7 linked regions of the Homo sapiens genome follow. The protein of the gene in region 7 interacts with the protein of the main gene of each other region in a pairwise test. Each region holds a gene or a part of one and is shown on either strand. Other genes may lie near its edges.

The links.
Region 1: the proteins of IMMT (region 7) and ATXN3 interact in binary tests that used the Homo sapiens proteins (3 or more experiments, as listed by UniProt).
Region 2: the proteins of IMMT (region 7) and PDHA1 interact in binary tests that used the Homo sapiens proteins (3 or more experiments, as listed by UniProt).
Region 3: the proteins of IMMT (region 7) and CHD3 interact in a two-hybrid assay, tested with the Homo sapiens proteins (2 studies listed by BioGRID and IntAct).
Region 4: the proteins of IMMT (region 7) and EXOSC10 interact in a two-hybrid assay, tested with the Homo sapiens proteins (one large-scale study listed by BioGRID).
Region 5: the proteins of IMMT (region 7) and CHCHD10 interact in binary tests that used the Homo sapiens proteins (3 or more experiments, as listed by UniProt).
Region 6: the proteins of IMMT (region 7) and NIPSNAP3A interact in a two-hybrid assay, tested with the Homo sapiens proteins (one large-scale study listed by BioGRID and IntAct).

Annotation. Positions count from the first base shown.
Region 1 is NC_000014.9:92,103,783-92,107,849, forward strand, and holds the start of ATXN3 (ataxin-3 reference isoform), read right to left. Parts: upstream 2,801-4,067; 5' UTR 2,771-2,800; coding exon 2,747-2,770; intron 1-2,746. UniProt on the Homo sapiens protein: Deubiquitinating enzyme involved in protein homeostasis maintenance, transcription, cytoskeleton regulation, myogenesis and degradation of misfolded chaperone substrates.
Region 2 is NC_000023.11:19,357,427-19,360,926, reverse strand, and holds part of PDHA1 (pyruvate dehydrogenase E1 component subunit alpha, somatic form, mitochondrial isoform 1 precursor), read right to left. Parts: intron 3,276-3,500; coding exon 3,208-3,275; intron 2,012-3,207; coding exon 1,903-2,011; intron 1,439-1,902; coding exon 1,274-1,438; 3' UTR 179-1,273; coding exon of another isoform or gene 94-178; 3' UTR 1-93. Other genes in the region: MAP3K15 (mitogen-activated protein kinase kinase kinase 15), read left to right, coding at 94-178. UniProt on the Homo sapiens protein: The pyruvate dehydrogenase complex catalyzes the overall conversion of pyruvate to acetyl-CoA and CO(2), and thereby links the glycolytic pathway to the tricarboxylic cycle.
Region 3 is NC_000017.11:7,898,789-7,902,288, reverse strand, and holds part of CHD3 (chromodomain-helicase-DNA-binding protein 3), read right to left. Parts: intron 3,279-3,500; coding exon 3,087-3,278; intron 2,947-3,086; coding exon 2,746-2,946; intron 2,394-2,745; coding exon 2,256-2,393; intron 2,000-2,255; coding exon 1,878-1,999; intron 1,732-1,877; coding exon 1,558-1,731; intron 1,438-1,557; coding exon 1,296-1,437; intron 1,046-1,295; coding exon 914-1,045; intron 1-913.
Region 4 is NC_000001.11:11,089,870-11,093,369, forward strand, and holds part of EXOSC10 (exosome complex component 10), read right to left. Parts: intron 1,729-3,500; coding exon 1,624-1,728; intron 1,311-1,623; coding exon 1,145-1,310; intron 800-1,144; coding exon 685-799; intron 1-684. UniProt on the Homo sapiens protein: Catalytic component of the RNA exosome complex which has 3'->5' exoribonuclease activity and participates in a multitude of cellular RNA processing and degradation events.
Region 5 is NC_000022.11:23,765,334-23,769,393, forward strand, and holds CHCHD10 (coiled-coil-helix-coiled-coil-helix domain-containing protein 10, mitochondrial isoform b precursor), read right to left. Parts: upstream 2,640-4,060; 5' UTR 2,542-2,639; coding exon 2,501-2,541; intron 2,261-2,500; coding exon 2,041-2,260; intron 964-2,040; coding exon of another isoform or gene 943-963; coding exon 795-942; intron 694-794; coding exon 674-693; 3' UTR 501-673; downstream 1-500. Other genes in the region: uncharacterized protein C22orf15, read left to right, coding at 1-226. UniProt on the Homo sapiens protein: May be involved in the maintenance of mitochondrial organization and mitochondrial cristae structure.
Region 6 is NC_000009.12:104,754,183-104,757,682, forward strand, and holds part of NIPSNAP3A (protein NipSnap homolog 3A), read left to right. Parts: intron 1-368; coding exon 369-518; intron 519-3,500.
Region 7 is NC_000002.12:86,167,963-86,171,462, forward strand, and holds part of IMMT (MICOS complex subunit MIC60), read right to left. Parts: intron 3,420-3,500; exon of another isoform or gene 3,384-3,419; coding exon 3,246-3,383; intron 2,883-3,245; coding exon 2,787-2,882; coding exon of another isoform or gene 2,779-2,786; exon of another isoform or gene 1,351-2,778; intron 1-1,350. UniProt on the Homo sapiens protein: Component of the MICOS complex, a large protein complex of the mitochondrial inner membrane that plays crucial roles in the maintenance of crista junctions, inner membrane architecture, and formation of contact sites to the outer membrane.

The sequences.
Region 1 (4,067 bases), on a different chromosome or scaffold from region 7:
AGGAAATGGTTGCAAGGCCCTTCGTAGGCAGATATTGCTACCTACACAGCTTCTTTAGGGCCAAAGTTGGTTCTCTGGCTCTCCAAACCCAGGACCTAGCAAGGGTTAAAGGTATATTGCAGAGGGGAAGGCAGTGAACGGAAAAATGGCACAGTAAGCCCAAACATTCCCAGAATGGACTGTATAGGAGATTAACAATTGGGCCATATGGTTATAGGTGCGTACTCTTGAGGACGCCCAAAAAACTAAATTGTTGAATCTTCACATGCTATGTAGATACAAGTTGATGATAATGGTAAAGGTATTCCTGAAGTATCTGTAGGCCTATACACATGCTGATAATTAAGAGGGACTCTTTTTTCCTTTTCTTTTTTTTGAGACGGAGTCTCGCTCTGTTGCCCAGGCTGAAGTGCAGTGGCACGGTCTCGGCTCACTGCAACCTCTGCCTCTCGGGTTCAAGCAATTCTCCTGCCTCAGCCTCCAGAGTACCTGGGATTACAGGCGCCTGCCACCACACCTGGCTAATTTTTTGTATTTTTAGTAGAGACGGGGTTTCACCATGTTGGCCAGGCTGGTCTCAAACTACTGACCTCATGATCCGCCCGTCTGGGCCTCCCAAAGCACTGGTGTGAGCCACTGCACCCAGACTAAGAGGGATTTCTTTCGGGTAAGTAGATTTTCACTAGGCTAGCACTCAGCTTTTTTTCATCCCATGGGTCAGTACAAATGTGTCCCAACTAGGTAACAATATTGTTAAAAATCTTGTCTAATTCTCAGGAAGTAGTGTGGAACATGTTTAAGGCCTTCCATGTTGAAATGTGGTCCCACACCAAAGCCTTTGAAAATTAATAACAAAAATATGGCCGGGTGCGGTGGCTCACGCCTGTAATCCCAGCACTTTGGGAGGCCGAGGCGGGCGGACCACCTGTCAGGAGTTGGAGACCAGCCTGGCCAACATGGTGAAACCCTGTCTCTACTAAAAATACAAAAATTAGCTGGGCGTGGTGGCGGGCGCCTGTAATCTCAGCTACTGGGGAGACTGAGGCAGGAGAATCGCTTGAACGGGGAGGCGGAGGTTGCAGTGAGCCATGATGGCGCCATTGCACTCCAGCCTGGGTGACAAGAGCCAAACTCCATCTCAAAAAAAAAAAAAAAAAAGTACGTGTGTATTTTTCACGCACTCTACTCAGCCAAGCAACCAAATCTCTATTGTCTATGATTTACGAGTCATGTCAATCAAGTCAAAAAATTAGTGACAACTATACGACTGAGTCCTTCCTCCCCCACTGAACATCAGCCTATTTCAAAAGTTTCCGAGATGTTTTCTACAATGAAAAGCATTGTACTTAACAATTTGTTCCAGGCACAGTGGCTCACGCCTGTAATCACAGCACTTCGAGAGGCCGAGGTGGGAGAATCACCTGAGTCCAGGAGTTCGAGACCAGCCTGGGCAACACAGCGAGACCCCGTCTCTCCCAAAAACATTACCTGGCCCTGGCGATATGCACCTGTAGTCCCAGCTACTCTGGAGGCAGAGGCGGGAGGATCGCTTGTGCCTAGGAGATCAAGGCTGCAGTGAGCCATGATCTCTCCATTGCACACCTGCCTGGGTGACAGAATGAGACCCCATCTTTAAAATAAAAATTAAAAAAAATTTATGCTACAGATTTACATTTGGTAAATGTATTCTTTTGTCTTTGCTTTATTTGTTGTGTGTGTGTGAATTTTAAATGTCTGGGATAAATGATCATTTATAAGTATTTAATAAAACAAAAACCCTTTGCTCCTCCTATTAAATAACAGCCTTACCAGCAACTCTTTCCAAACACGAAACTATTATGAAACATGATACCATGTGCCAAAGCTGTCCTGGGGAAGGCTTCACTCACACACAAATGGCTGGATAATAGTATGAGAGAAACGAGGAGTTTCTTTACATATCACAAACAGTATCTTCAAGTGCATGGTCACGGAAGAGTTAAAGGGACAGCAGGCTAGGCAGACTACAACAAAATCATCCCAGTCCACTCCTAATACCTAAAAACAAAGCTGGCCGCCTGCTCCGGAAAGATGGGAGTACCAAAAGAAACCAAACCCAAACATCCCGTAATAAAAACTCTTGTGACGACTTCCCTGTTTAGGGGCACGCCGGGTTTCCTACTTCACTTCCTAAATGTCAGGCCCTACAGTGGGCGAGCCAAGGTCTCCTCCCTCGGGAGGCTCGCGGACCTAGTGCAGGGGAAAGACACGAACAAGACCCCAAAGATCTACGTGTAGGGAAGACTCCAATATAGAATTGAGCAGTCCGGAGGAGGAAAAGTTAATTCTGCCAGGATTAGGGTAGGAGGGGTTGAGGGAGGTGTCCCAGAGATGACTCTAGCTAGACCCTAGGGAGAGGGAAGGATTGGGGAGGGGTGAAGGAATCCTCCGAAAAGCGATGGAAAGTGACGGAGAAAGGCAGAAGCAAACCCACTGGGCGCCACCCCACTCCCGTGTCCCGAGACGCCCCCGGCCCCGCCCATACTCCCTCCCGGCTCCCAGGGCGGGGGCCGCGGGGGAAGTAGGGGCGTAGGTGATGCTCCCCTCCTCGAGCCGAGGAGGCGGGAGGCTGCGGCGTCGCCCCTCGCCGGGCGAGATCGGCATGGGGGCGACTCGGGCCCCACCCAGCCCTCCGAGAGGCGGTGATGCCGCGCTCCACGCCCGCCACCGCGCGGCAGACAGCTCCCCACCGAACGCGGACACTCACTTTCTCGTGGAAGATGGACTCCATGTTTATTTGTCTGGAGCCAACGGCCCCCACGCCGAACCACCCCCTCCAGCTCCGCCCCCTGCCCCTCTCCTCCGCCCACCCCGCCCCTCCCCGGCCCGCCCCGGTACCCCGCCCACGTGCCGCACGCAGACCAATCACCCGTGAGGATGCGAGTGTCGTGAAGCGAAGAGCGAGTGAACGCCGGGGACACGTGACCTTGGTAGCGCGTCCTCCTAGCTTCTGTTAGCGGGCCTTCTGGGGGATGCTACATCGCCACCTGCTGTCTGGAGGATCTTCTCCGCTTCCCACCCATTTCTATGGATTCTTAGGTTTCTGGGGGGAGGTCTGGACCGCTCACCTGGGTTCTATGTTCTTTTTGTTTTCCACTTTGACTTTCTACTGTGTTCATATAACTATTTACTTTCTTTCTCCTCCTCCTGCACTGAAAGTTTAGTAAGAAAAAAGCCATCATTACATTCTCCCAAAACCCAGCACTTGTATAAAAATGATAGCTAGGCCGGGCGAGGTGCTTCACGCTTGTAATCCCAGCACTTTGGGAGGCCGAGGCGGGCGGATCACCTGAGGTCGGGAGTTTGAGATCAGCCTGACCAACATGGAGAAACCCCGTCTCCACTAAAAATACAAAATTACCCGGGCGTGGTGGTGCATGCCTGTAATCCCAGGTACTCGGGAGGCTGAGGCAGGAGAATCGCTTGAACCCGGGAGGCCGAGGTTGTGGTGAGCCGAGATCGTGCCATTGCACGCCAGCCTGGGCAACAAAAGCGAAACCCCTCCCCCACCACCCCAAAAAAGAAAAAAAATGATAGTTAATATTTACATAAGGCTTTCTATGAGCTAGGCACTTTTCTAAATGCTTTGCATATATTATCAAATTTAATACAGCAAACTTTGATGTAGGTGTTGATGTTATTCATACACATGAGGAAACCGAGGCACGGAGAGGTTAAGAACAGCACAATGTCCAAGGTCAGATAGTAAGTTGTCTTGCCAGGATTCAAATCCAGGTGGCTTGTTACCAGTGTAGGTGTTCGGACCCTTTAGAGGGAACTTAGAAGTCCCATAAATTGTGTGGGAGACGGGGAGGTAGCAGCGGTTTGATGAAACTTAAATGGAAGGATAGGTGCAGATCTTGCACCTTGAAACCAGATTAAGGTGTACTTTTTTTTTTTTTTTTTTTGAGACGGCCCTCTCTCTGTCCCCCAGGCTGGAGTGCAGTGGCACAATCTCCCCGCTCACTGCAACTTCTGCTTCCTGGGTTCAAGTGATTCTCTTGCCTCAGCCTCCCAAACAGCTGGGA
Region 2 (3,500 bases), on a different chromosome or scaffold from region 7:
TTATTTTCATTAGGTTTTTAAATTAGGGACTGCAGTTTTAAGCTCTGTTGGCTTGAAGCACTGACTCTGAAGACAGCTGTGTTTGTTTCCCAGGGGTGGTCTCCTCTGCAGACTCTGGAGTGCGGTCTCCCAGTACAGAAGGGCTCAGGAGGCCTCAGAAACCAAAGACAAGGCTTGATACCAATCAGCTAAGCTGTGGCAGAGTGTCCCACCACGCTACATGTTTTGTTAAAGCTTCTGTTAGTGTATACACGAATTCCGCTGTGTTTACATATTTAAAAATGCCATTGTTCAATTAATAGTTTAAGAACTTGTTTTAAATACTGTCCTGAGTTTCTTTTGAAACCTGTTATTTATAAACATAGAACTGTGTGTATTGTGAAAACAGTGAGCCTTGGTTTTGACCTCCCGGAATATTAGGAAATTCACTTGTAGTCCCAGCTATGCAGGAGGCTGAGGTGGGAGGATTGCTTGAGCCCAGGAGGTGTGGAGGCTGCAGTGAGCCATGATCACACCACTGCACTCCAGCCTGGGCAACAGAGCCCGACCCTGTCTCAAAAAAAGTACACCCTTCAGCACTTGCTGGAATGGTGAAACAAACAAGGGGTATTTAACAAACATGGAAGCTGGGACACTGCCTCAGAACTGGTATGGTACTTCAATTTGAGAAACACAAAACTGATACGAATGTGCCTTGTAGTTAATGTTTGATATGAACAGAAAATAGCTTCATATTTATACTGAATGTGTAAGTAGAGAAAACTAAGTTATGTGGCCTTTGAAATGATTACAAAATTGGAATGATTACAAAAGTCTTATTTTAAAATGGAACTGTCCTCTTGCCTGATAATAAATATTGTATCTTGTAGAGAAATGGTCAGCGCGAACAGGCTGCAGCACCAGCGCTGCTCGGGGTGGGTGCTATGGTTGGTAGAATGCTGTGAGGGGCCCCGCCATAATGGTCTCCTCCCAAAAAGGTGGCTGGGGGCAGGGGAAACAGGCATACAAGGAATTGTTCTTCCTTTTCATAATTAGAGTATTTGTTCAAAGTATACTATTTTAAGTCAAAAATAATCTTTAAGCACTCAATAATTCATCTTTTAATGCACTAATGTACAAACTGCATGCAATTACTACCTGCTCAATCTACACACTTAATGGAAGTTTCCAAGAATTTCATTGAATTTCATTGACTGGGTTTTCTTCCTCCTTAACCAAGTTGAGAACACTGTCTGGTAGCCCCCTGAAGGTATAACCTCTCCTTCTCCTCCCCTTAACTGACTGACTTAAACTTGATCCACTGATTGGCACCACGAACTTCAAAAGGTGGGTCGCTGGAGTAGATGTGGTAGCCCAGCTCTTCCAAAGGTGGCTCAGGATCGGCCGTGGCAAACTGGGCAGCATCCTCAATCTCCTTCCTCACTTCCACATCAATTTCCTAAAAATTAGGTAACAGTGTAAAAGGTTTTAGAATGAACAGCAGCTTAGGTACCAACTAGAGTTCTGCTGAGGACCTGTTGCTGGTGTAACTCTTTAACTACAAGTACGAACAGTTGCTAATTCAGAAGATTTTGGAATACAGATTTCTAGGGTGTATCTATTTTATGAATTAAAAATCCACAGTATACTTTTAGGAAAAAAGAACCATACTACTGTGGGGGCTTTGCCACTGTGATGGTGGTTCACAGTCCACCAAAATCTGAAATCTGAAGAGTAATACAATTTTGAATAGAGGAAACTAAAGGAAAAGCCCCCACCCCAAGGGACTTTGGAACTATGGAACTATTTATGTCCCAGGACATCACTTTCTGGGCTTGGAGGAACCCACACAAACTCTGTGGCCACCCAGGGGTGGCAACTTTTAAAGCCAACCTTCAAACCACCATGAACAAGTGACTGTACCTTTAGTTCTTCCACACTGGCAAGATTGCTGTTCACCATCCTGTCCTTGAGAAGCATAATAGGGTCACTCTTACTTCTTACTTCCTGAATTTCTTCTCGTGTACGGTAACTATGGGGAGGGAAAAGTAGTAATCGATCAGTAAGAGCAGTTCCAGTAGAGCAAGGACGGCGTGATGAAACATGATATGGGGTTGGATTGTCCCAATGAGGTGAAATACAGAAGTGTGTTTCTGAAACAAAGGGGCATACCAATGCTTATGTCACTATAGGCGTGGCAGAGTTGTTGTTATACTTTCAAAATACCAGAACGCAGCCTAACATTCTGTAATAACTGCTTCTGTCTTTTCTAGAAAACCGTACACTGGTGAGTCACATGGCTTCCCTGGCATTCCGACAACAGGGGCCAAGTTTTTGCTTGCTGCTTTGATTTAGATGTAAGGTTCTAAAGAAGTGTCACTTGTCCCACCCATTTGGGCTCCTGTATACTACATGGGTGGGGACAGCAGAGATGGTGTGTGTGGTGATAATTAGACTTTGAGACATCAGAGCGCCAAGCAGGAAATCCATGTGCCTTGCCTTTCTCCCTTAAGTCCCCCTAAAGAAGCACAGCCAGCAAAACCAATGTATCTTATGCCTATATCATCTGAAGTAACACTAAAAGGATTCTACCATTTTCAACAATAGATTTACACAAAGTGCATTTTTCCATATACTGTGCTCTCTACATGATTTTTCCTTAGAAGTCCACTCTACAAAGGCTTATTTATTCAACTGTGTCAAAACTGGGATTCCAGAATCACAGGCCAGAGCTACTAAGCAAAAAAGTAAAATTCATGCCTTCCTAGTGGAACCTAGCTTTTTTGATTGATGTATTTCAACGGATTGAACACCCAGTTACCCTTAGCTCTATACCAGACAGAGGAACATCTCCAAATTCTGATCCTCTTCAGGTAGAGTATGCCAGGTGTAGACTTGGGGTAATGCCTACAAAAGCTAAATGCCCCCAAGATACTACACTACCATCAGCCCTGTTTTATGTAACAATTTCCCTCTACAATTAAGGTATATAACACTCTTTCTTTAAAAATTGCTGCTTGTGCTCACACACACTATACACTGTAGGCATTTTCAGAAAGCTTTCTTATTAGGAGGCACTGCTTTCAGATAACTTGATGCCCAACACAACTGCGTACATGAAGTGAACTGGTATCTAGCTCCAAAAGCAAATACTGAAATGTGTTGCTTTTGCCATGTAACACCATTCAAAGCCCACCCCTATGGAAACCACACTGCCCATGAGCGTACCTGACTCCAGGGTCACTCATACTGTGTCCGTGGTAACGGTAAGTCTGCAGCTCCATCAGGATGGGCCCCTAAAACAGAACCGGTAGGCAGTTAGTTAGTTAGGAACGATGACTGGAAGAACAGGCCGGCAATCCACGGCCTCAAACGCAGGCCCTTTATTAAGCGTCCAGTGTAGTCTTATCAGATCTTCTGAGTTGTCACGAATTTCTTATTGGTTGACTGATCTGTTCTCATTTCTAGCAAGTATTGATTGCATATTTCATCTTTCTCATTTTTAATAAGGCAATCTGCCA
Region 3 (3,500 bases), on a different chromosome or scaffold from region 7:
CACCACGCCCAGCTAATTTTTGTATTTTAAGTAGAGACAGGGTTTCACCATGTTGGCCAGGCTGGTCTTGAAACTCCTGACCTCAAGTGATCTTCCTGCCTCGGCCTCCCAAAGTGCTGGGATTACAGGTGTGAGCCACCACGTCTGGCCCTCTTGTCACACTCTCTTGATTTAAGATTGTTTCTCCTAAGGCAGAGGTTCTCTGAGACCCATGAAAAGGTTTCAGGGAAATCCAGGAACCCCCTGAAAATCCGTACAAAATTGTGTCATTGTATGTGCAGTTTTCTGGTGAGTAGACCCAGAGCTTTCATCACATTTCCAAAGGGTCTGTGCCCTTCACCCTCACCTGCCAATAAGATGAAGAAATAATACCAGTCCCTAAGGAGGCAGATGGCTCACCCTCCCCCTTCCCTCATGCAGCTGAAAAGGAACTAGAGCTGGACCTCAACTTCCAGCAACCTTAAGAACAGGCATCAGAGGCCAAGAATGAACTTGCTATACAGTAATCCCAGCACTTTGGGAGACCGAGGCGGGCAGATCACCTGAGGTCAGGTGATGGAGACCATCCTGACCAACATGGTGAAATCCCGTCTCTACTAAAAATACAAAAATTAGCTAGGCATGGTGGTGCACGCCTGTAATCCCAGCTACTTGGGAGGCTGAGGCAGGAGAATCACTTGAACCCAGGAAGCAGAGGTTGCAGTGAGCCGAGATCGTGCCACTGCACTCCAGCCTGGGCAATAAGAGCGAAACTCTGTCTCAAAAAAAAAAAAAAAAAAAAAAACTCTTACAGGAGGAATCTCCTCATTTGTCACACCAGAGCAGCCACAGGAAGACCGTAAGAAATTAAAGTCTGGAGGATGAGGAGAGGGAAGAGGAAGCAGATGTAAAGACAGCTAAGGGCACAGGTCACCTGCGAGAAGATGAGCACTCGGTGTCCTTGCTCCTTCAGCTTTCGCAGCATCTTCTGGAGCAGCATGAGCTTCCCAGACGACTTAATAAGTGCCCCACCCTCATAAGCCCCACTGGGGAGTTTGGGGGACTCCTGAAAAGGGAGGAGAGAGGAGGAGGAGGGGGTCAGTTGGAAACATGCCCCCATATTCTTGCCACACCTAGAAGGCCAGATGCCCGGATCCAGCTTCCACATGTTCCCAATTCCTCCTGTTCTCAGACACCCAGTCCGTGGCCTTCCAGCCCAGCTCCACCCCTGTGGCTCAATACCCACCTCCCCACTACTCCCCACCCATGTTTTCTGAGAATGGGCGTTCGATCAGCTCCCTGCTCTGTGTATCTACCATAGCAGCCACGGGAAAAAGGTATGGATGGTTGCAGCACTTCTTAAGATCCATCATGATATTAAGCAGCGACACCTGGTTCCCACCACCTCGTGAATTCAAGGCCTCAAAATTTCGAGTCAGGATGTATTTGTAGTATTTCCTAAAGGCCAGGAAAGGGGTGTAAAAGAAACATAAATAAAGGAAGCAATTATGATATTGCACTTGGAACGCTCCCATCAATCCCCAAGCCCTACTCCAGGCAGCTCGTCTTGCATCTTACTTCTGCATGGGGCTTAGCTCCACCCGAACGATGAGCTCTGTCTTGGCTGGCATGTTCTTAAAGACATCTGCCTTGAGTCTCCGCAGCATGTGTGGCCCCAGCAAATCATGCAGTTTCTTGATCTGGTCCTCTTTGGATATGTCAGCAAACTCCTCCAGGAAGCCCTCCAAGTTGCTAAGAGCCAGAAGAGAAGAAAATTAACAGGTCGGCAAGTTCCTTGCCCCTGATCTCAGACTTACCACCTCAGATTAATCCTCTACCAGCTCATTTTATCTGCTCCACCTCTCATCTCTGCCAACTACCCTTAGGGAACCACTTACTTAAATCTCTCTGGGGTGAGGAAGTTCAGGAGATGGAAGAGCTCCTCCAGATTATTCTGCAATGGGGTTCCTGTCAGCAGCAACTTATGATCTATCTTGTAACCATTGAGAACCCTGAAAAACTAAAAGATGGGGCAAGGCAAGGCAGGAAAATGGGCTTATTAGTGACAAGTGACCGACCCACAGCATCAGCCTTTCCCTGCCCCAGCTCCCATTTCACTCAGGATCAGAGGCCCCAAATCTCTGGCCCTCTCCCTCTTCCAACCTGGACGTCCTCCCAGACTACAGAAAATCCCCAGAATTTTTGTTGTTTTTTAGGACCAAGGCAAGTGGGAAGTCCACAACTTCAAGTTTTTTAGGTCTGGAAACCTCACTCACCTTGGACTGGTTGTTCTTGAGTCGATGGGCCTCATCTACCACAAGACAGGCCCAGCGGATGGAACCAAGTGCTGCCTGATCAATGGTGATCAGCTCATACGATGTCAGGAGAACATGGAACTTCACCTGTGCCTCCCTCTGCCAACATAATTATTGCCCATTCAGCTGCCACCTGACAACCATGCACCTACACCTCCAGAACCAGACACCTTGTCCTGACTGTGGCTCCCAACAGGAGCCATTACTCTGTTCTCCAAGCAGGGATTACAGACCATGGCTCCTAAACCTCTGCCCACATTTCCAGTACCGACAGATCCATGTATGCCCCTGGGAGTACCTGCCATATCTCTAGGATGGTAGTGCAGAGACAGGAGGACAGGTGGAGGAAGAGGAGAAAGGTGAGGAGGGGAATAGAGAAACTGAATTCCTGGCTGAGAAAAAGAAGTGACAGCTTTGAGGGTCTCAGAGGATATGAGGTAGAGGGTCTTACCTTCATCTTAAAAGCTTTCTTGCCCCCTTTGATGGCATTGTCCTCAAAGGAGAATTCATTCTCACGAATGATGGCCCGGCTGTCCTTGTCACCCGTGTATGTCACCACATAGAATTTGGGTGCCCACATCTGGAACTCCCGCTCCCAGTTAATGATGGTAGAGAGTGGGGCACTCACCAGGAAGGGACCTTTTGTGTGGCCCTGGGAGTCAAGAATGGGGGCAGCATAAGTCTAGGCTAGAGGCCGTATACCCTAGTCCTCTGCCAGCTACACCCCTTTATCTTCCCCCTCCCCACTTCCCCAGTCCAGGCGGTCCCCTTCAAGGTCCTAGAATCCAGCACCTCCTTGTAGAGTGAGTAGAGGAAGACGATGGTTTGTATGGTCTTGCCTAGCCCCATCTCATCAGCTAGAATGGTGTCAGTGCCCTGGGCCCAGGAGAAGCGTAGCCAGTTCAGCCCTTCCAACTGATACATGTGCAGGGTGCCTCCAGTGGCTGTGATAAACCGTGGCTGAGTCTCATATTTCACGGTAGGCTATAGAGACAAGAAGTCAGAAAGCTCAAGGAAATAGTCGGCGGCTCCTCCAGTCTTAGTCTCTTCCTCCCTGGCATGGATACCAAGTTGGATTACAATTCCCTCTACTATGGCCTGAGTTTACAAAAGTTCTCACATCTAGTCTTCAGCCCCTCCCCCTCATTCCTTAAGACAATATCCAGCAGCACCATGGGGAAGGGCCAGCTGGTGACAGAGCCACCA
Region 4 (3,500 bases), on a different chromosome or scaffold from region 7:
GGAGGTAAAGGCTGTAGTGAGCTGTGTTCATGCCACCACACTCCAGTCTGGGCGACAGAGCAAGACCCTGTCTCAAAGAAGTTCCAACTCTACAAGAAGCCTGCATCTCTAATTTTGCTTTTACATCTTTTTTTTTTTTTTTTTTTGAGATGGAGTCTTACTCTATCACTCAGGCTGGAGTGCAGTGACGCCATCTTGGCTCACTGCAACCTCCACCTCCCAAGTTCAAGCGATTCTCCTGCCTCAGCCTCCCGAGTAGCTGGGATTACAGGCACACACCACCTCGCCTGGCTAATTTTTGTATTTTCAGTAGAGATGGGGTTTCACCATGTTGGCCAGGCTGGTCTCGAACTCCTGACCTCAGGTGATCCACCGGTCTCAGCCTCCCAAAGTGCTGGGATTACAGGCGTAAGCCACCGCGCCCAGCCTTCGTGTTTTACATCTATAAAATGGGAATAAGAGCAACTGCTACTTCTCAGGACTGCAGTGAGGTTTACATGAGGCAATGCTGTGTAGGCCCTTTGTGAACACAAACAGCAGGTTTTATTGCTAAGGCCCAGGTTGGGGTGTAAGGAGGAAATCACTACTCCTCAGATTGTTTTCATGTATATACTCCACAAAAGTGAAAATGTGGCAAAAAGGTAAGTACTCACGGCAGAAAGTCAGACACAGGCCAACACTTACATGTCTTGCTCAACCTGCTGGGTTCTCTGCTGATGGATGAAATCAGCCAGTGCAGGGGGGACGTCCAAGTCCTCAGGACGATCCTGTGGGCGTTCCCGCCTTTCCTTAGAGAGAGCTGGGGATCCCAGCAGTGACAAAAACATCATTAGCACATTCATGTCTTTTCTAATTACACAGGGGTAAACTGGTTCCCTTTGTTTTTTGGCTTTTTTTTTTGAGACAGGGTCATGTTCTGTCCCCCAGGCTGAAGTGTGGTGGCACAAGCACAGCTCACTGTAGCCTTGACCTCCTGGGCTCAAGTGATCCTCCCACTTCAGCCTCTGGAATAGCTGAACTGGGCTCCCTTTGAACAAAGGAGGGTGGGCTCCCTTTGAACAAAGAAGAGAGACCTGTACACCCTTCCTGGTTTTTGCATCAAATAAAGTGAGACTCAAACACAGGCAAAGTATGCACTATTTACCTTGAGGGAGAGGTTTCTGAGCATTGGGTTTGATGAAGATTTTAGGAAGAAATGGTGTGTTGGAATTGTCAATCTTCTCTCGAAACTTGAGCTGAGGTCGGATGATATTTTTTGCATGAAGCAGCCGGAAAGTTTCAGATTTTGCTTTTTTGCCATATTCTGCTGCCTATGATCAATGAATACAAATACTTTATAACACAGCAACTTGATGAATTAGAAAAGTAAATTCCAATTTATGACTTCTGAGGAGACAAGAACATCGCAAAGGTCATTCATTCATTTAAGAATGTATGTGCATGTAGAGGTCTCCAGAAAGAGAAGAAGAGGGTGTAATTAGTTTGTGTATGTTTATGAGAACAAACTAAAGGAGACAGTGGCCAGTTCTCTAATAAATTAGAACAGAAATGCATGTTAGAATGAGCAAAATCTCTGTTATGAAGCTGACATCAAGAGCTCTAGTTAATCTGAAAAGCCCTCACCTTACGGTTCCAGCTGGACACTACCGTTTTGGGGACCTGCAAGCCGGCAGGGAGGACAGGCTGTTGATTCTTGTTTACACCTGAGGCTTCATCCAGTAAAATACCCTAAGAGTAGAAGAGGTACTGGTTAAGCATTTTTCCTTTTGAGGTTAGCAGAGTTAACTACCTAACATTTTATTTATTTAACATGGAGTATCACTCTGTCACCCAGGCTGGAGTGCAGTGGCGCAATCTTGCCTCACTGCAACTCTTTACAGTTCTGAATTGGGCTCACTGCAACCTCTGCCTCCAGGGTTCAAGCGATTCTCCTGCCTCAGCCTCCCGAGTAGCTGGGATTACAGGTGTGCACCACCATACCTGGCTAATTTTTTATTTTTAGTAGAGATGGGGTTTCACCCGGTTGGCCAGGCTGGTCTCGAACTCCTGACCTCAAGTGATCCGCCCACCTGAGCCTCCCAAAATGCTGGGATTATAGGCGTGAGCCACCGTGCCCCACCTAATTACCTAACATTTTAAAGAGATTGGTATTCAGAGACATTTGTGTAAGAAAATATACATATATAAGAACAGATCAATGTATGTATCAAAACATCAAGTTGTATGTAATAAATATATAGATGGTCCCCAATGTATGACAGTTTGACTTGTAAGTTTTTGAGTTTACAATGATGTGAAAGTGATTTGCATTTAGTAGAATCCATATTTCAAGTACACTTACCACCTGTTTTTCTTTTTTCTTTTTTGAGACAGAGTCTTGCTCTGTTGCCAGGCTGAAGTGTAATGGCGTGATCTCAGCTAATTGCAACCTGCCTCCCGGGTTCAAGCGATTCTCCTGCCTCAGCCTCCCAAGTAATTGGGACTACAGGCATGCACCACCACGCCCAGCTAATTTTTGTATTTTTAGTAGAGACAGGGTTTCACCAGGTTGGCCAGGATGGTCTCGATCTCTTGACCTTGTGAGCTGCCTGCCTCGACCTCCCAAAGTGCTAGGATTACAGGCGTAAGCCACTGTGCCTGGCCCTGTTTTTCTTTTTTTTTTTTTTGAGAGGGAGTCTCACTCTGTTGCCCAGGCTGGAGTGCAGTGGTCCAATCTCAGCTTGCTGCAGTCTTCGCCTCCTGGGTTCAAGCAATTCTCATGCCTCAGCCTCCCGAGTATCTGGGACTACAGGTGCACGCCACCACGCCCAGCTAATTTTTGTATTTTTTAGTAGAGATGGGGTTTCACTATGTTGACCAAGCTGGTCTTGAACTCTTGACCTCAAGTGATCCACCTGCCTTGGCCTCCCAAAATGCTAGGATTACAGGCATGAGCTACTGTGCCCGGCCACAACCTGTTTTTCACTTTCAGAAGTGTATTCAATGCTACTTGAATTACATGAGATGAATATTCAACACTGTATTATAAAAATAGGCTTTGTGTAAGATTTTGCCCAACTGTAGACTAATGGAAGTTTTCTGAGCACATTTAAAGCAGGTTCAGTTAAGCTATTTGGTAAGTGAGGTGTATTAAATGCATTTTTGACTTATAATATAGGTTTATTGAGACATAACCATGTAAATGATCGCCTATACAATTTTTGTCAATAAAAAAATAAAAATTTTACAAAGTTGATCAATAAAGGTCATTAGTATGTCATGCCAAGTAATTAATGCATTATTTGCTCAAAGGCAGGTAGGACAGTAATTACCCATGCCCAATACTCGATTGACTCTTTAAAGCTCTGAATTGGGCTGAAAATTCTAATATGATTTAACAGTGTAATGTGGCCACTAAAATAACTAAGAAGTCCCTGGACTGCATACATTAAATATAGAAGTACACTATTTAGAATGAAACTGCAGGGAGTCCTCATCTATTTTGCACTTTAAAGCAGACG
Region 5 (4,060 bases), on a different chromosome or scaffold from region 7:
AGACCCAAGGGGGTTAGCCATGACCTCTGCCTTGTGTGATCAGGTGCAAACAGACAACAACCCAGCAGGACTCCTCTTGCAGAATCTGGAATTGCTGAGAAGTTGCATCAGCAAGAGGGGCAAGGTCAGACAGGATTTGAGGCCGCCAGGGGCACCTAAGCTGTGGGTGCAGAGAATGGGATGCAGAGGTAGAGACAAGAAGGGTAGAGGTGGCAGGTATCCCTGATAAGGGGGAGACCATGGGTTCATCCTGGGATTCCACCCTCAGAGTCAGATGCCCTTGGGATCACCGACTAATGCCTCTCCACCTCACTCTGGACTGCCCAAGGAATCTGTCCTGTGCTACCCACAGTGCAGATTGCAACAGGGCTCCTCCTCCCCACCCAGGGCCCTGATTAAGGGGATGGATTGCACACTGTAGTGAGACATCCATCCTGACCCCACCTCATCAGCCAGGGAGCTCCCTGAAGACAGGCCATCGAGAGAGGCACACAACAGGCTGTGGTCTAAAATAAACTTTTAATTGCACATTTGTGTCTTGGGTTATCTGTGGGGTGAGAAACCTCCTCACTTCCAATCCCAGCTATCTGGGTACAATCTGGTGTTGTGGTCTGGCTGTCGGCGAGGGGTAGAGGTGGGTGCAGGACTGGCCCCCGAGTCTGCACCGACCTCTTCAGGGCAGGGAGCTCAGACCTGGGAAGGGAGGGGCAGCACAGGCTGGTGGTCAGCCTGCAGGTGCAAGAGGAGGGTTGGCCTCTCCCCCTCCCCGCCTGAGTCGGGGTCCACTCACTCACCATGGTAGTACTTGCACTGCTTCAGGGCCTCGCTGAAGCCCTCACACAGGGACAGGTCACTCTGAGTGGTGGAACAGTCCAGGAACTGCCTGATCTCGTAGGCGCAGGGCCCCATCTGCAGGGGCTGGGGGGCAGCGGGGGTGGGGGCCTGGGGGTACAGTGCAAGAGGCTGCAGGATCAGCTTGGAGTTGGCACCTGGAGGTGCGTTTCAAACCTGGGGCCACCTGCCCCTCCCCACATCCCCAGCCTGGGTGTCCCAAGGGTCCTAGGCAGGCTGAGTGATCCAGCAGCAGAGGCGGCTACAGACAGCATGTTTCTGCTGCCTTTTTTTTTTTTTTTTTTTGAGACAGAGTCTCACTCTGTCACCTAGAGTGGAGTGCAGCGGCGCAGTCTCGGCTCACTGCAACCTCCGCCTCCCGGGTTCAAGTGGTTGTCCTGCCTTGGCCTCCCAAGTAGCTGGGGCTACAGGCGCCCGCCACCATGCCCAACAAATTTTTTGTATTTTTAGTAGAGAGGGGGTTTCACTATGTTGGCCAGGCTGGTATCGAACTCCTGAACTCATGATCCACCCGCCTTGGCCTCCCAAAGTGCTGGGATTACAGGCATGAGCCACTGCGCCTGGCCTCTGCTGCCTTCTAATGGGCACTTTGGGCGGGTGCAGGAGAGGGAGGAGAAGGCTCTAGGAAAGCCCAGTACTCTGCCTGTACTCTCAGAGTATGAGCCCCACCCCCACAAGTTCTAGCACCTTCCTGGCTCAGCTACACTAATCCTCATGACCCCTGACCTAGCCACAAAGCCACATTTGGCTTACGGCGGTGGGGTTCCTAGCAGGGGAAAGGTCATCAGGGAAGTGGCTCCCCTTCGCCCTTGCGCCCAGCGGCCACAGTGCCCAGACCTGGGTGTGGGGAGAACAGGGGCTCAGGAAATCCAACATCCCTCCCCTCTGCTAGGGTGAGGTGACCTTGGGCGAGTCTCTGAGCCCTCAGGGCCTGGGTTTCCCATCTTTAAAGGGCTGGTTGGTGTCTCTCCCTGGGAGCTTAGGGACCCTGGCCTCAAGGGAGAGGCCGGGAAGCCTGCCTCTAAGTGACAGTGAACTCAAGACCAGTGGACTAGGACCCTTCCCGGGCAGAGTCCTGGGCTGAAGCAATGGTGAATACACGCGGACACTCCTCACTGGACACTTGGGCAGCTCCCTGTGTGGCCTCGAGATAATCCTGCCTCAGTTTCTCTTGGACTCGCTGCTCACCTGCTGGACAGCAGGCTGGGAGGGCTCCGAGCTCCCCCCGCTGAAGGCTCCGGTCAGGGCGCTGCCCATGACGTGTCCCACAGCCGAGCCCACGGCTACCCCTGCGGCCGTGGTCGCCATCTGAGCCATGAGCCCCGGCTGGCCCGAAGGGGCGGGGGCTGGGGCGGCTGCCGAGGGCGGTGGGTGCGCGGGCGGGTGGGCAGAGGGCGCGGCTGGGCGGCTGCGGGGGTGGGAGGAAGCAGGGTTAATCCTGGCCAGACCCCAGGCTGGAGGGCTGCAGCTCCTGGAAACGACCCCCGGAGAGATGGACGACCCACGTCTCCACACGTGGGTGCTGCACCCCCACCCCTCCCCCCGCCAAGATGGCGCAGCAGCAGCCAAGGTCACTCTGCGGACGCCCTTAGGGGAGTGCCCACACTTCCCTAACCCCCTCCCCACAGGGCCCTTGTCCCCCTCACACCTGGCTGGCCGGGAGGCCGCGCTGCGGCTTCCCCGAGGCATGGTGGCGGCGGTGGGACCCGGGCGACCTTAGAGACGGCGGCAGCGGTGCTGTCGCGGGGACAAATGCCGCAGCGCTTGTCACAGCCGGCGCAAAAAAGGCGGGGCCCCGGGCGGGGCCTCAGGAACACGCCCCCAGCGGGAGGCGGCACTGCCCCCAACCCTATCCCCCTTCTCCCGTCCTCCGGACATCTCCCTTCCAGCAGCTCCGGGTCTCGGCTGGAAATGGGACCCTGCTCCCTCCCTGCGCCTGGCAGGCTGTGCGGGTTCTGGGGACAGGGGCCAGTGTCGCAAAGCGCCGAGGGCTTAAGGAGGGCGACAGTGCCTTCTGTTAGGACCACCGCAGAGGGCAGGGAGCGGAGTTGGGGGTTGTTGCGAGCCCTGGAGGGGAGAGGAGACGGGGAGGCGACGGGATGGGGCCAGCTGGGAAGGGGACGCGAGGCTCCAGGCTGGACTCCGCTCTCTGCCCCCTCCCGGACTCGGCTGTCTGTCCCCTCCCTCCAGACAGGGTCTGCTGACCACCGCGTGGCCTGGGAGTCTCCGGTGGCCTAGGGAAGTGAAGCGCGGCCCTGGGGAAGGCCTGGAGCAACCCATCCCCAGAACTCCCACGAGGGGGCGTCCCAACCCGTCTTCGACTGTTGGCCAAAATGCGCTGCCAATGCTGGCAGCCTTACGCAGTGCCCGCGGGGGATATGAGGCCCCCCGCGCGGCCCTGAACCCCACCGGATTCCCCGGGCCGGCCCGACCGCCCCCACCTAGTCCCTGGCCCCGCGAGTGCAACCCCCGACACTAACGGCCTTTACGCGACATCCGAGCAGCGTGTCTATCCCAAAGGCCTAGGAGCATTTGCCCGGCTCGGTCAAATCTAGCGCAAGTTTGAAGCCTGCGGCCTCGCAATTTTAGCAGCTTCGTTCCAGGCCAGGTGAGCTGGAGCGCGGATTTAGAATGCTTTCCTGCTCTTCGAGAACTTGAGGTTTTAATTTTACTTTTTACTTTTTTTTTTTTGACACGGAGCCTTGCTCTGTCGCCCAGGTTGGAGTGCAGTGGCGATCTCGGCTCACTGCAACCTCCACCTCCCGGATTCAAGCAATTCTCCTGCCTCAGCCTCCTGAGTAGCTGGGACTACAGGCTCGTGCCACCACACCTGGCTAATTTTTGTATTTTTAGTAGAGACGGGGTTTCACCATGTTGGCCAAACTGGTCTCCAACTCCTGAGCTCATGATCCTCCTACCTCAGCCTCCCAAAGTGCTGGGATTACAAGCATGAGCCATCGCGCCCGGCTGAGCTTGAGGTTTTTATGGTCTTTTCTGGGTGACTTTGCAGTGGTCATATTATTACTCCTAGGTGGGGGAAGGTAGGGACTGTCCCTCATCACTGCTGTGCCTGCAGAGGACTCCTGACACCGGGATTGTCGGCAGGGTGCAACCAAGAGCAAAAGCACCCAGAAGTGGGGGTGTGGGTCACCAAGTAAGAGAGGAGGCCCCTCCATAAGGAAGGAGCAGGTCAAGGGGCAAGGGGAGT
Region 6 (3,500 bases), on a different chromosome or scaffold from region 7:
CTTTTATTCTTTTATTTTCTAAAAGCATAGACTTTTGCAGCTCAAAATTCTATATCATTATACATTCTCAACAGTTTTTTAACAAATGTTATAGATTAAAAATATTTCAGATAATAGTTATAATAGCTTCCAGTTCTTTTTCTTTGTCATCTGTATGATTAAGCATAACAACTCACTCTTAAACATGGGCAAGGACTTTCTAAGCATAAAAGCAGAGAGTGCAAATATAATAAACATGTCTACATAATATGTATGCATGTCTGATCCTCCAAATCTGTGTGTGTAGATAGTGAAAGACTATTCACTGAGAAACGTGATTGGATATTGCTTGAATGTTTTCTGAAAAATTCTTTTTCTCCCTATTCCAGGAGTCTATGAACTGGCCACTTTTCAGATGAAACCTGGTGGGCCAGCTCTGTGGGGTGATGCATTTAAAAGGGCAGTTCATGCTCATGTCAATCTAGGCTACACAAAACTAGTTGGAGTGTTCCACACAGAGTACGGAGCACTCAACAGAGGTACAATTGTCCATTTCTTCTTATATGAAATTGTAATATATATTGTGACCTAAGTTCCTTGGGTCAGGTTCTTTCTCATTATAGAGTATGTTTTATTATTTATTGCCAAATGTTTAGTTTTTTGTAATTTTTAAAATTGAGAAAATCTGTTTTACATCTTATTTATTTAGAATGTTAACTTATGAAACCTTCAAATGCTGAATAGCTGTTTTCCCTGATACATCAAAATGATTAAATTTTTTAAACTGAAGGAACCTCGGCTGGGCACGGTAGCTCAGGCCTGTAATCCCAGCACTTTTGGAGGCTGAGGGGGTGGATCACCTGAGGTCAGGAGTTCGAGACCAGCCTGGCAAACATGGTGAAACCCCGTCTCTAGTAAAAATAGAACAAATTAGCCAGGCATGGTGGTGGGGGCCTGTAATCCCAGCTATTCTGGAGGCTGAGGCAGGAGAATCACTTGAATCCAGGAAGCGGAGGTTGCAATGAGCCAAAATCGTGCCATCGCACTCCAGCCTGGGTGACAAGAGCAAAACTCCATCTCAAAAAAAAAAAAATGAAGGAACCTCAAGAAATAGTCTGTTACTTTCATCATTTCTTTTTCCTCTGAATGTACTTTTATTGATTTTTTAAAAATAATATTATTTGGGGTAGGGAGATTATCTCTAAGCAAAAAAGTAATATATGTTTTGTATAAATATGAAAACCCCCCTCATAAAAATTTACCCATTTTCCACCAGTTTTATATATATCTATATAGGGAGATATAGTAAATATGTATATATATTGAGGTAAATTTATATATGGATATAAATTTATTTAATAAAACACATACTTGGGGTATTTAACTTGTAATGTTGAAAAACATTTCAATCAGAATTTCAAGATTTTTTGTGGCAAATTCAGAAAAACATTTGTAAAGTTTATCTGAAAGGATAAAAGAGCTGATGAGGTAGCTCATACCTGTAATTCCAGCGCTTTTGGGAGGCTGAGGCTGGTGGATTGCTTAAGCCCAGGAGTTCACGACTAGCCTGGGCAACACAGCTTGTCTCTACAAAAAAAATTTTAAGAATTAGTTGGGCATGGTGGCAAACACCTGTAGTCCTAGCTACTTGGGAGGCTGAGGTGGGAGGATTGCTTGAGCCAGGAGTTCAAGGCTACAGTAAGCTATGATTGCACCACTGCACTCCAACCCCTGAACGACATAGTGAGACCCTGTCTCTTAAAAAAAAAAAGTAACGAAGAAAGGATAAATGTCTAAGAATAGCTAACAAATATTTGAAAGACTCATCATAATATCCTGTTGCCTTTCTATTATCTCTTTATGTCCAATGGACATCTCAAACCTAATATACCCATCTTTATGCAGAAATTCAACTTCTTGTAATAATCTATCATAAGAAAATAGAATATATAAAAACAGATGTATATTCAGGTTGGAAAATACATGGAGGAGAAACTGTTATGAAAATTATTAGATGCCTATCTCACACCATATGCGAAAATAAAGTCAAGCTGGATTGTATATTTTAATGAAAAAAATTTAATTCATAAAATTGGTAAAACAAAATGTAGATGAATTTATTTAATAATGTGGATTGGGACTATATTTGTAAGCCAAAAGCAAATGAAGAAACTATGAAGAAAAAAAAATCAACTTATGATTTTATTATACAAAGGCTCAAACTATCTGGATGCCTGAAAATCACCATAAATGAAATTCAAAAGCAAAAATAAAAATAAAAATTTATGCAAAAGTAGACATGCACATGGCTACTAAATATATATTAAAGAAAATGCATATTAAAACAATAATGAGATGCCATTTCTTTACCTTATAAAAGGTATACTTACATGGATATAGTATTAGGTCAGGAAAAAATAAGTACTCAGATACTGTGTAGGGTTCATATTAGCTTAATCTTCCCCCAAAATTTGACAATAAAAATAAAAGCCTTATTTTTATTGTTTTTGCCAGTATTACTTCTAGAAAATATGCCTGGGTGTGTATGTGTATAGGTGTGCTAAATTATACAGAAAAGAAATTTGAAAGTATATAACATACATAGTAGTCATATTTCAGTGAGATAAATGGTTAAGTCTCTATGTTAATATTCTTTTTTTTTTTTTTTTTTTGAGATGGAGCCTCGCTCTGTGGAGTGCAGGTACGATCTCAGCTCCCTGCAACCTCCGCCTCCTTGGTTCAGGCGGTTCTCCTGCCTCAGCCTCCCAAGTAGCTGGGATTACAGCTGTGTGCCACCATGCCCAGCTAATTTTTGTATTTTTAGTAGAGACAGGATTTCACCAGGCTGGTCTCAAACTCCTGACCACAGGTGATCCGCCCGCCTCGGCCTCCCAAAGTGGTGGGATAAGAGGCCTGAGCCACTACACCTAGCCTCTACCTTAATTTTCTATACTGCACATATTAAGTTTTATTTTTTTAAAAACTACAGAAAATGTGTGTTCATACACTTTTTAATCTTAAATTCATTCTCAGTGTTAGGAGAATTGGTAATCAGTACATCATTTCTGGAGGACAGTGTATACTATATACACTATATGTAAGTACATATATATAAGACATGCTCTTTGGTTCTGTCAACTTAAATTCTACTTTATATTAAGGAAATAATCAGATTCAGACTGCCTGGGTTTGAATCCCAGGTACACTACTTACTTTTTGACTTTGGGTAAGTAAACCTCACCATACCTTAGTTTTTTCATCTATAAAATGATAGATTATTATGAGGACCTAGATTATTATGAGGATTAAATGAGTTAATACATTAAAATGCTTAAAACTAGGCCTGACACATAGTTATCATTCAATAAATGTCAGTAGTTGTCATCGAAAGTATTATTATAAACACATAGTTGTGCTCAAATGAAGTTTATGTTAATATTGTTTACATTAAAGAAACATTGGAAATGTAGTATGACCTTCTTTATGTAATACATACGTAATACAGAAATCGATATACATGT
Region 7 (3,500 bases):
ACAATCGTAACAGGGAAAAAGAGGTGCCCATTTCATCCCCTTGGCAAGAAGGAATACTCATAGCAAAACACTTATGTTGACAAGATACAAGAAAACAGACAAGAGAAAGAAAAAGACAAATAAGAAAACAGGTCAAAAAATACAAAACAAAACCCAAAGGCAACTTGAAATGGACAGTGTTCTTCCATAAAAGGACTCAAGAAATAGCAGACACCAATGTTCAAGAGGCTTCCATCTATTAAGATCACATTTCTATATGCTGTTTCGGGAATACCAAAAAGTAAAGCAAATGACAATTTTAGATAATTTACTAAAATGCAAAAATAAATGGTCATTTGAAGAAAGGCGGCTAGTAAGAATACTAATTTAATAATAAATGGGCCGGCGCAGTGGCTCACGCCTGTAATCCCAGCACTTTGGGAGGCCGAGGCAGGTGTATCACCTGAGGTCAGGAGTTCGAGACCAGGCTGGCCAACATTGTGAAACCCCGTCTCTACTAAAAATACAAAAATTATCCAGACATGGTGGTGGGTGCCTATAGTCCCAGCTACTCAGGAGGCTGAGGCAGGAAAATCGCTTGAACCTGGGAGTTGGAGGTTGTAGTGAGCCGATATTGCACCACTGCACTCCAGCCTAGGTGACAGAGTGAGACTCTGTCTCAAAACAAATTAATTAAATAAATGATATCACATGACAAAAAATAAAAAATGTATTTGACAAGCGAGAAAAAAAGATGATTTTGAGGAAAAGAAGCATAAACTAGCAATGAACAAATGGAATCTGAGGAACTACAAATGGTACCTCTGCAAGAAAGATAAGAGGAAAACTAATAAGGAGAAAATAAAAAGAAATTGACAGAAGTGATAGAAGTGAAATGAGAGCAGGGGATACAACAAGAGAAAGGGGCAAGGGAGAGAAACCGTGGTATTTGGATCCCATGACATGCGTGAGTGAACAGTGGACATCAAGTACAGGCAGTTGTGAACCACTTTATGGAGGCCACAGAAAGTGGGCTGCTGGGAGGCACCTGCTGCTTCCAGCCCTCTTCAGAGGTTTAGTCACTGTCCTTTGATCCTTGATAAATATTTCACATGCAAATGCATATGTGTATATTTTTAAAGTCAAGTTTGAGGGGGAATTAAGAGGTGACAGATAAAATTCTGAAAATTTTCACTTTGCCCAAAATGAAAGATGAGAGGAACCAGGCAAGGAAAAGAACAGCTGGAACAGCAGACATCTCCATCTTACGTTTATAACTTAATTTCAAGGTGCCCAAGTGATAAAGAGAGAAAAGTGAAAAGTGAAGAAAAAACAGGACTAAAAGAAAAAAGAAGTAGGAAAAATGAAATATTTCACTTAGTTAGAAGTCATTTATTAAATATTCACAAATATTTGTAACACAATCAGAAGAATACAAAAAATCAAAAACGAAAATCCAAATCCAAGTAGGAAAACTAATGCCATAGGCACAGAATGACACCTATGCTATTCTAAGAAACTTGGTTCCTCAGGGTAGGGCAGAACCAGCACATTACAAGGGAAACAGGAGCAAAACAAATGACAAGGAGATCAAAAAACTATAAACAGCTGCCATGAGTACTGAACTCTCTGTCCAGCAAAAAGCTACATCCCACGACCTCCAGAGACATCAACATATTATAGCACAGTACAAAAAATTATGTTACATGTGCTTTAAGACAGAAAAATAAATTGATAAATATCTATTATCTTTTTTAAACCATCAAAAAATTTAAGAATCCTGACCTACCGAGGACAGCAAAAATAATAATAATGATAAAAAAAACTTGGCCAGGTGTGGTAGCTCATGCCTGTAATCCCAGCACTTTGGGAGGCCAAGGTGGGAGGATTTCTTGAGGCCAAGAGTCCAACACTACCCTGACCAACACAGTAAGAGCCCATCTCTTAAAAACAAACAAACAAAAAAACCATAAAACTGAAACTTAAAAAGGAATATGCTTGTTAGCTGGAAACCAGCGATGTGTAGAACATTCCATGCCCCACCAGTGTCAGATAAAAGCACTACTAGAGAGTCCAGAGGCTAGATGATAAGGCAGTGTAAGCCATTCTGACTCCAACAAATAAATTTACAATTATTAATAAACAATTATTTACAAGTATAAATTAACAATTATTAATAAAAGACTCTTAGGGCTGGGTACAAGGGCTCAGGCCTGTAATCCCAGCACTTTGGGAGTTCAAGGTGGGAGGATCACTTGAGCCCAGGAGTACGAGACCAGTCTAGGCAACATAGTGAGATGCCTGTGTCTATAAAAAATTTTTAAAAAATTAGCTGGGTATGGTGGTACACGCCTGTAGTCCCAGCTACAGAGGAGGCTGAGGTGGGAGGATGGCTTTGGCCTGGGAGGTTGAGGCTGCAGTGAGCCATGACAGTGCCACCGCACTCCAGTCTGGGTGACAGAAAAGAGCCTATCTCAAAAAAATAAATAAAGGACTTTTAGGCAAGCTGCTAAAACATAAATAATCAATTTCTGTTTCCCAGAGTATAAAGAATCTTTAGCGCTAACATAATCTTTAGTATTATTTGGAGTTTTCACCAACTATACACTAAGAATAGCCTTTGTCACTTAGGTAAAAGAAGTTTAGATGAAATGAAGGTGATGAATAAAGCAATGCCACTAAAAAACAACCGCAGCAACAAAAGAAACCACAACTAGGTGATAGATGACAAACTTGTGCTGATAGTTTAAGAAGAGAGCAACTGGGAGATGACCCAAAATCCTTAAGAAGCTGTCTGGTTTACATACACTCAATTTTAACTTGTTCTTGTTTTTCCTGTTGTGCAAGGCGAGCTGCAACTTCTTCAGGTGGTCGCTCCCTTATAGAAGATGAGGATGCTTCTTCTTGCAGCAAAAGTAAATAAGAGGAAATCAAATTTCAGCATAGAATTTTAATAGCTAACAGGGATATAAAAAAAGCATCGTTTGTACTGGCCAGTTATATCAATGCAGGGCATTTTTGTGTTAAGAATTCTAAAACCATATCATTACTCTTAATGATTCCAAAATGAAGAAATAGGAATCAGGCTTTAATCTTCTTGTTTAAAAAGATACATTCGGACATTTAAATTTTAAAAATTTCCTAAGAAACTCTGAAGACCTAAACCTAGTGTAAATGTATACTTAGTGTCTACGTGTTGCCTAGGCATTAAATAGTTCTGATGAGTGTATCATGTATAAAAGAACAAATAGAAATAATTAAATTACCTGAAAGTGCAGGTGTGGGTTTTCCTTCACCAATTTCAGGGTGATCAGTTTTTAAAGATTCCTCAGGCTGAACTGCAGGGGCTGGGACCGACAGGGTATCACCTGCTGCAGAAATAATTTGAGCCGCTTCTGTAGGTGCTATAAATATATGTTACTCATGGTATTTATACTTTCCTGGGTTAACAGAGAAACACACAGAAATTTACTACCACCATCACCACCCACTTCACATCTGACTCCTTAGAGACACAAATA